Linked DNA regions of Homo sapiens. The protein of the gene in region 1 purifies or fractionates together with the protein of each later gene. This does not show direct contact. Each region holds a gene or a part of one and is shown on either strand. Other genes may lie near its edges.

The links.
Region 2: the proteins of HOXD11 (region 1) and LYPLA1 purify together in Homo sapiens (affinity purification with mass spectrometry; one large-scale study listed by BioGRID and IntAct). This does not show direct contact.

What each region holds. Positions count from the first base shown.
Region 1 is NC_000002.12:176,105,639-176,110,206, forward strand, and holds HOXD11 (homeobox protein Hox-D11), read left to right. Parts: upstream 1-1,641; 5' UTR 1,642-1,717; coding exon 1,718-2,498; intron 2,499-3,268; coding exon 3,269-3,504; 3' UTR 3,505-4,116; downstream 4,117-4,568. UniProt on the Homo sapiens protein: Sequence-specific transcription factor which is part of a developmental regulatory system that provides cells with specific positional identities on the anterior-posterior axis.
Region 2 is NC_000008.11:54,091,782-54,095,587, reverse strand, and holds part of LYPLA1 (acyl-protein thioesterase 1), read left to right. Parts: intron 1-3,806. UniProt on the Homo sapiens protein: Acts as an acyl-protein thioesterase. Hydrolyzes fatty acids from S-acylated cysteine residues in proteins such as trimeric G alpha proteins or HRAS.

The DNA.
Region 1 (4,568 bases):
GGAATCTTGGGGAAAGGGGCAGCCTCCTGCCCTCGGTTCTGGGATTTGGGTTTGGGAAGAGACGGTTTACCTTTGAAAAGCGTCTGCTCACTCGGAGGTGGGATCCCAGGCCTTGCCTGGACCCATGGGCTAGGAGAGGGTCGCGGCAGGCTGGGAGGAGAGTGAGGCCTTGGGGGAGTGGATGGGGTGCCCCACGAAGAGTCTGCCTCAGAGCCAGGTGACACAGAGGGGCTCCAGGAGGGAGTCAGGCTCCGCTGAGAGCCCTTAGAGAGACAACCTATCTTGGGGGAGGGGCTGAAGTGACCATGCAGACCCAAGGGTACCAGAAGAGCCTCGGGGAAACGCGGCGTGGATTCGCAGGCCTTGGCGGGGCTCCGAAGCAGTGAAGGGTCTAGGTATAAGGCGGACACCCAGGCTAGGCCTGAAAGCAGAGGGGTGAGGAGGACGAAGGTGCGAGTGTGTGGGGGTTGTCTCTTGTGGGGAGCCAGCGGGAAGCCAAGCACCCTAAGAGTAGGACTCCAGATCCTTTTGTTCACCAGACTCCCCAGATTCTAGGGAGGCTGGGGACCACGGGCTGAGCCCCCTCCTGGCTTCAGTGCTGAAGGAGAAGGCAGAGAGGCAACGGGGAGAGAGACAGAGACAGTGACACACAGCTTAGAGGAAAGGAGGGGAGAGGATGAGAGGACAGAGAGAGAGAGGAGAAGGGAGACAGGAAAGCAAGAGGAAGGAAGAAGGAAAGCGGAAAAGAAGAGGAAGGAGAGAAGTGAAGACAGGAGAGAGAAGGGAGAAGACTGAAGAGAAACGAGGCAAGGAGAAAGAGAGACAAGAACAGAGAGGGAAACCAGAGAGAAGGGAAGAGAGCCGGGTGGGCACGAAGGCCCCGGCCTGGGTGAGTGCCTAGGTGGTGAATGGCCTGGGTTTTTCCGAGGCCAGCACTCGCACCCTTGGGGTCAGAACCGGAAAGAGCCAAGTCACTCCACTCTGAACGCGCTGGGCAGAAAAATATGTAAATCAGGGCTCCCTGCGCCCTGGAGAGTGGCGAAATTACTCCCGCCCGGTGAACAAGAAGCAACAAGCTCCCAGGCGGGTGAGCTGCAGAGGGTGGCAGAGTCGCGGGGGAGGGAGCGGCTGCAGTAAGGGGGGTGGGGTTCGGAACCTCACACCCTCACACCTAGTTCCTAGCTTCTAGGGAGCCTGGAGCCGGGGCTTCCCCCCCTCTGCTCGCTGCTTCTCTCCCTTCCCCCTTCCTCCCCCTCTTCCCCCTCCTTCCTCCTCCCCGCCGGCCTCGGTCCGCGTACTTAAAGCGGCGCGGGAGGGCGGACGCGGGCGGGCGGCCCGTTCGGGCGGTGGCAGATGCGCCCAGCGGTGACAGCGGCCAGCGGCGCGCAGGTGACCGGCCTGAGGCGCAGCCTGGTCAGGGAGCGCCCGGGGAGAGCTGGCGGCAGAGGGCAGCCGATCCGCCCCCAGCGCGCGCGTCTCGGCGCCAGGAGCCGTCCCGGGGCGTGTTGGCGAGCGTTGATATAGATATAAGGACATTTCTCTTCATGGCGTCACGTGACATAATTACCACCAGAATCAATCAAGATGAATTGCACGTCAGCGCCCGGTGGGGATTTTTGCTTAGTTGATCCTGGCCCAAGCCTCTTGTGCAATCGATGGCTCAGGTTGGCTGCGCGGGGAGCGGCCAGAGGCTCGCTGGCGCGCACGCCGCGGAGTCATGAACGACTTTGACGAGTGCGGCCAGAGCGCAGCCAGCATGTACCTGCCGGGCTGCGCCTACTATGTGGCCCCGTCTGACTTCGCTAGCAAGCCTTCGTTCCTTTCCCAACCGTCGTCCTGCCAGATGACTTTCCCCTACTCTTCCAACCTGGCTCCGCACGTCCAGCCCGTGCGCGAAGTGGCCTTCCGCGACTACGGCCTGGAGCGCGCCAAGTGGCCGTACCGCGGCGGCGGCGGCGGCGGCAGCGCGGGGGGCGGCAGCAGCGGGGGCGGCCCCGGCGGGGGCGGCGGCGGCGCGGGGGGCTACGCTCCCTACTACGCGGCGGCGGCGGCGGCGGCTGCGGCGGCCGCGGCGGCCGAGGAGGCGGCCATGCAACGCGAGCTTCTCCCGCCCGCGGGCCGCCGGCCGGACGTGCTCTTCAAGGCGCCTGAGCCGGTGTGCGCTGCGCCGGGGCCGCCGCACGGCCCCGCGGGCGCCGCCTCCAACTTCTACAGCGCGGTGGGCCGCAATGGCATCTTGCCACAGGGCTTCGACCAGTTCTACGAGGCAGCGCCCGGGCCCCCGTTCGCCGGGCCGCAGCCCCCGCCGCCACCCGCGCCGCCACAGCCCGAGGGCGCAGCCGACAAGGGCGACCCCAGGACCGGGGCTGGTGGCGGCGGGGGCAGTCCCTGCACCAAGGCGACCCCTGGCTCGGAGCCCAAGGGGGCAGCAGAAGGCAGCGGTGGCGACGGCGAGGGCCCCCCGGGAGAGGCGGGGGCCGAGAAGAGCAGCAGCGCAGGTAGGCACCGGGTACTGGGCAAGCGGTGGGCCCGGGGGCCGCGGGGGAGGGGGGGGGGGCGGAGGCCTCCCTCTGCTTGCGCCTTTTTATGTGCTACTTTATAAGCATTCGAAGAGGTTTATACATCCTATAAGATTTCCTGGGCCGTTGTAAAGTGTGTTTATGGTAGGAAACCAATTTAGGTGGGCTTAAGGTAGACTTCGAGGAGGACATTAATAGCTGTCGAGAGCCTTTTCCCAGTTTTGGGCAGGGGGTTGCTAGATACCATGGAGGGAGGGAGGGAGGGAGATTTCAAGCCAGTGTGAGTGCATACACCGGAGCCTCCTGCTTTTAAGGGAGAGAGGCGGGGGGTGGGGAAGTGGGGGGAGTTTGATCCTTGCACTGGACTTTATCCAAGCCGCTAGCTGACGCGCGCCGCTGGAGTCAAGCAGATGCCCCGGCGGGCCTGCTCTTGTCTCTGTTCCCTCAGGTTCCAGTTTAGAGCCTGCCTTGCCCTCTGCTTCCCCACCTCCGTGCCAGGCTCTGTGTGTGTGTGTGTGTGTGTGTGTGTGTGTGTGTGTGTCCGGGCGTGAACACATGTCCACGCCCGCACTCTCTCCTGTGCCCGCCCATATATCATCCCCCACGACGCAGGCAGGGCCTTTCGGCCGCGGCAGAGAACGTCCCCAACGGGGCCAGGGCCTGGCCCTCGCTCAGTGGCCCGGGCGGGCGGGCGGGTGGGGGCTGTCAGGCAGCGGCCTCTCTCACCCCCTGGTCTCTTTGCCTTGCAGTTGCCCCCCAGCGGTCCCGGAAAAAGCGCTGTCCCTATACCAAGTACCAGATCCGCGAACTGGAACGCGAGTTTTTCTTTAACGTGTACATAAACAAAGAGAAAAGACTTCAACTCTCTCGGATGCTCAACCTCACTGACCGGCAAGTCAAAATCTGGTTCCAGAATCGCAGGATGAAAGAAAAGAAACTGAACAGAGACCGTCTGCAGTATTTCACTGGAAACCCCTTATTTTGAGAGCTCCAGGAAGCGCCCTCACCCCAGCCCCACTCACCCACCCTCCTTCCCACCAGCCTGCTCTCCGCAGGCCCACTGTCCTTGGGTTTAATGACGTCTCTTCTCTGTGGAACTTCACGATTCCTTCCCACGGTCAACTCGGGACCTCCCAGCGACCACTGCAGCCTGCGGACGAGGCCGGGACTTGGCCGAGCGGATCCTAATAAGGGGAAAATGGTAAATGCAAACGTCCCGTTACAATTTTACCGCCAGTGTGCTGTCGTTCCCCCTCCCCCTCTCCGAGTCCTCGTGGGGACACGGCGGGGTCTGTAGGAAGTTGGGCCGGGTTGGGGGTTGCTAGAAGGCGCTGGTGTTTTGCTCTGAGTTTTAAGAGATCCCTTCCTTCCTCTTCGGTGAATGCAGGTTATTTAAACTTTGGGAAATGTACTTTTAGTCTGTCATATCAAGGCATGAGTCACTGTCTTTTTTTGTGTGAATAAATGGTTTCTAGTAAAATGGAGGTTACAGCTTCAATACACTGTATGAATTCTCCTCTTTGAGGTTTAGTGCCTCCTTAGGATATTTTAGTGGCCAGAACCCATGCAACTGAAAATCGAATGAAATACTTTTTAGTCCCACTAAAATAGTAGTCGTACCCTCCCACCACCTCTAGGTTACACTGGTTTTAAAAATCATGTTAGTGATGAATTTCTGAATTGACGATGTGACCAAGCAATGCTGGCGCTGCCTTCTCCAGGCAGTAAGGCTGGGGCAGCAGGAACCTAAGAAGAAAACTCCCACCCCCACCACTAGTCTAGTGAACTTGGGATTTCTGAAAAGACAGCAACCATTTTTAAAAACTGGTTAGAAAATCCAAATGATCTCTTACAAGCTAACAAGGAGTCACAGTCCCTTAAAAAAGAAGAAACCAAAATTAGAAACTTCCATTGAAGGGAGAAGTTTTCGAAAAGGAAGTCATCAGTAGGTGGAGAGGGCTTGCTGGTGTCATAAGTGGACCTGGAGTAGGGAAGGTAAACCCTCCCCGCCCCCACTGAAATAGGGCCAGGAGCTGCAGACCCTCTCAC
Region 2 (3,806 bases), on another chromosome or scaffold:
TATCACTTGGTTAAGATGGTGTCTGCCAGGTTTCTCCACATTAAAATAATAAATATAACATATGAAATATTTAAAATATTGAATATGTAATTAAAATATTAAAAAATATTTTGTGGGGAGATACCTTGATATTATAACATATTCCTGATCCCCACCATATGTTCACCCATGGATTTAGCACCCATTAATGATTATTGCCAGAATCTATTGTTGTGGTAGTTGCCGAATATCTTATGATATTTAAATATTTAAAGTTAAAATATGGTCTTTTAATTAAATTTCCTTTGTTCTGGCCGGGTGCAGTGGCTCATGCCTGTAATTCCAGCACTTTGGGAGGCTGAGGCAGGAGGATCATCTGAGGTCAGTAGTTCAGTACCAGCCTGGCCAACATGACGAAACCTCGTCTCTACTAAAAATTAAAAAACTAGCTGGACAGGATGGTGCATGCCTGTTGTCCCATCTACTTGGGAGCTGGAGGTTGCAGTGAGCCAAGATGGTGCCACTGTACTCCAGCCTAGGCGACAGTGAGACTCAGTCTCAAAAAAAAAAAAAATTCCTTTATTCTGGATTTATTATTTAGCAGTCTACTGTGGGGTAGAGCTTTCCTTTCTCCTTTATTTATTACTTATGTAGATACTCATTTGTTTCAAAATTTTAAATCAGTACAGACTCTTGGATTCCTATTGTATTCAGAGGATAACAATCAAGTTAGTTATTTATTTTGATGCTCAAATTGTCCTTTAGTTGGCCACAGTAACCCTTTCAAGCTGGTACTTGGTGTCTTTTGGACATATCCTCATTCTTATTTGATCACTTCCTCACTTTATGGTACAAGACTTTTTCTAGGATTGTCTTATATGTTTCCTGCTCTAGTCCTGGACTCAGCCATTTTTCCAAGAACCCTGGTTCCTTTTAGTAGACAGTGAGATCTGGATGCTATATGTGCTCCCAGATCTAGACCCTTGCAGTGGACAGAGCTAAGAATATATGGACATACATACATATGTACACACATATCAGTTTTAGTATTTATAAGTATTCAAAATCTTGAGTTTATAATGATTCCTCCAATTGCAGCCCAGCACCACAGGGTTTATTATAGCCTTCTCCCTTTCCATATTTGTAATTCCGTGAGGAACCTGACTTCTGTTCTTGGGGGGTTCTGGCCAACAGTGCAACTGTGGAGTGTGCCCCTCCAGTTGCACCAGCTCACAGCTATGCTTCATTCATGGGACCTCTCCCCATCTGCTGAATATCACACCTGAAAGCTCAGTTCCAATTAAGGGGAAACGAGGAGGAGGAAAGGCCTGGTGGAAAGCTTGGTTCTCTTCATGTGTCCCCCTCCCTGCTACTCCCCAGCCCCGATGTATTCCAGGAATTACTTATCTGTATTACCAGTCCCTGTGACATTTCCTAGACCAAGGAGATTATAAAAGTATAGAGAAGAATGTTTGAAAGATAAAATAAGTGGTTGACTGGATCAGATTTTACTGAGAGGTCAAACAAGGTGAGGATTTAAAATAAATTGGCAACATGGATATGTTTTGTGACCGTAATAAGTTTGCAAGTCTTCCTGTAATCAAGAACTATTAATAATAGAATTATAGAATGTGATTTGGAGATCATTTAATTACAAGGAATAGAAAACTCTTCAACTAGCTTAAACAAAAATTAGAATTTGTGGAAGGATAGAAGGGCAGCCCACTGGCATATAAAGTCCATGAAGGCAAAGGTTTCTTTAATAAACTTTCATTAAGATAAAATTCACATACCATAAAATATACCTCAGCACAGGGATTTTTTGTGTTTTGTTTAAATTAATACTGTATTCCCAGTGCTAGAATAGTATAGGACATGTAATAGCACTAAGTATTTGTTGGACAAATAAATGAATAAATAAAGAATTAAAGGGTGAGACATACGAGGAGCATCAATCACCACATGTATTAGTTTCCTAAGGCTGCCATTATAAATAACCACAAACTAGATGGATTAAAAACAACAGAAATTCATTCTCACAGTTAAACAGGCCAAAAGTCCAAAACCAAGCTGTCAACAGGGCCACATACATTCTCTTTAACGGAAGATCCGTCCTTGCCTGTTCCGTTTCTGATAACTCCCGGCTTTCCTTGGCCTCAGGCACCATACCCCCAACCTCTGCCTCTGTCTTCATGTGACCTTTGCTGTGTTTCTGTTCTCTCCTCCTCTTAGGAGGACACCAGTTATTGGATTTAGGGCTCACCCTAATCAAGTGTGATCTCAACTCTTAACTAAGGAAATCTGCAAAGAGCCTATTTTTAAATAAAGTCACATTCCGAGGTTTCAGGTGGATGTGAATTTGGGGGGAACACTGTTCAACTACACCATTATTCTCACTACCTTTCCCTGGTCTTATGGTCTCTCACTTGCTTCTTTCTGTAGATTTGCGTAATTCTCAGTGTGGACACACTCGTGTTATCCACAAGTGAACGATCCTAGCTCTGACTTATATCAACCCTACTTCTGGTGTTCAGTCAAGAATCTGATCTGTCTTAGGTCATTTTTTTTCTTGTCTAGTTAGTTGGTAAGACTGATTGGGACTGATAGGAGAGTTCATAAGAATAACGTGCTACATGAATGGGGTTGGGGATGAGTGGTGTTTCTTTTACAAACCCAGACAGAATCTCTGTTCTACACCCATATTACTACAGGATAATGAACAAATGGAAATAATATGTGTGCGTGCCACCACACAGGTCCTGATTTTGTTTTGTTTTGTTTTGTTTTTAAGTAGAGACAGGGACTCATTATGTTGCCTAGGCTGGTCTCAAACTCCTGAGCTCAAGCAGTCTGTCCACCTTGGCTTCCCAAAGTGCTGGCATTACAGGTGTGAGCCACTACACCCAGCCAGAATTCTTAAATCTTGAGTTTTTCATTGTCACTGAAAATTATCAAAAGAGTTGGCTACAGCTTGGCCATCCTTTTTATATTAATATGGTTGGAGTCAGAGTTTTATAACCTGTATAGACCTTCGAATCATCCAGTACAACTAGCTCCTGGTTATGGATGGGAAAACTGAGAACTAGAAAGGCATGATTCTCATACTATAGCATGCATCAAAATCACTTGAAAGACTTGATTCTTGGGCCCCACTGCCAGTTTCTGATTGAGTGGGTCTGGAATGAGACCAAGGAATTTGTCTGCATGCCTCCTCTTCTTCTTTCTTCTTTCTTCCTCCTCTTCCTTCTCCTTCTCCTCCTCTTCCTCCTTCTCTCTCTGTCTCCTCCTTCTCCTCCTCCTCCACCTTCTCTTCCCCCTCCTTCTCTTCCTTCTTTCTCCTTCTCCTCCTTCTCCTTCTCTTCCTTCTTTCTCCTTCTCCTCCTCCTCCTCCTTCTCTTCCGTCTTTCTCCTCCTCCTCCTCCCCCTGACTTCGACAGGGTTCTCCTCCGCCGCCGCCTCTGCCTCTTCCATCTCCTCTGCCGCCGCTGCCTCCCCCTCCCCCTCTTCCTTCTCCTTTTCCTCCTCCTCCTCCTTGCTTCGACAGGGTCTCTCACTCTGTTGCCCAGGCTGGAGTGCAGTGGCGTGAACACAGCTCACTGCAGCCTTGACCTCCTGGGTTCAGCCTCCCAAGTGACTGGAAGTACAGCTGCATGCCACCATGCCTGGCTATTTTTTAAAGTTTTTGTAGAGATGAGGGTCTCAGTATGTTGCCCAGGTTAGTCTAACTCCTGGGCTCAAACTGTCTTCCCATCTGGGCCTCCCAAAGTGCTGGGATTACAGGCATGAGCCAGTGTGCCTGGCCAGAATTTGCATTTCTAACAAGTTCT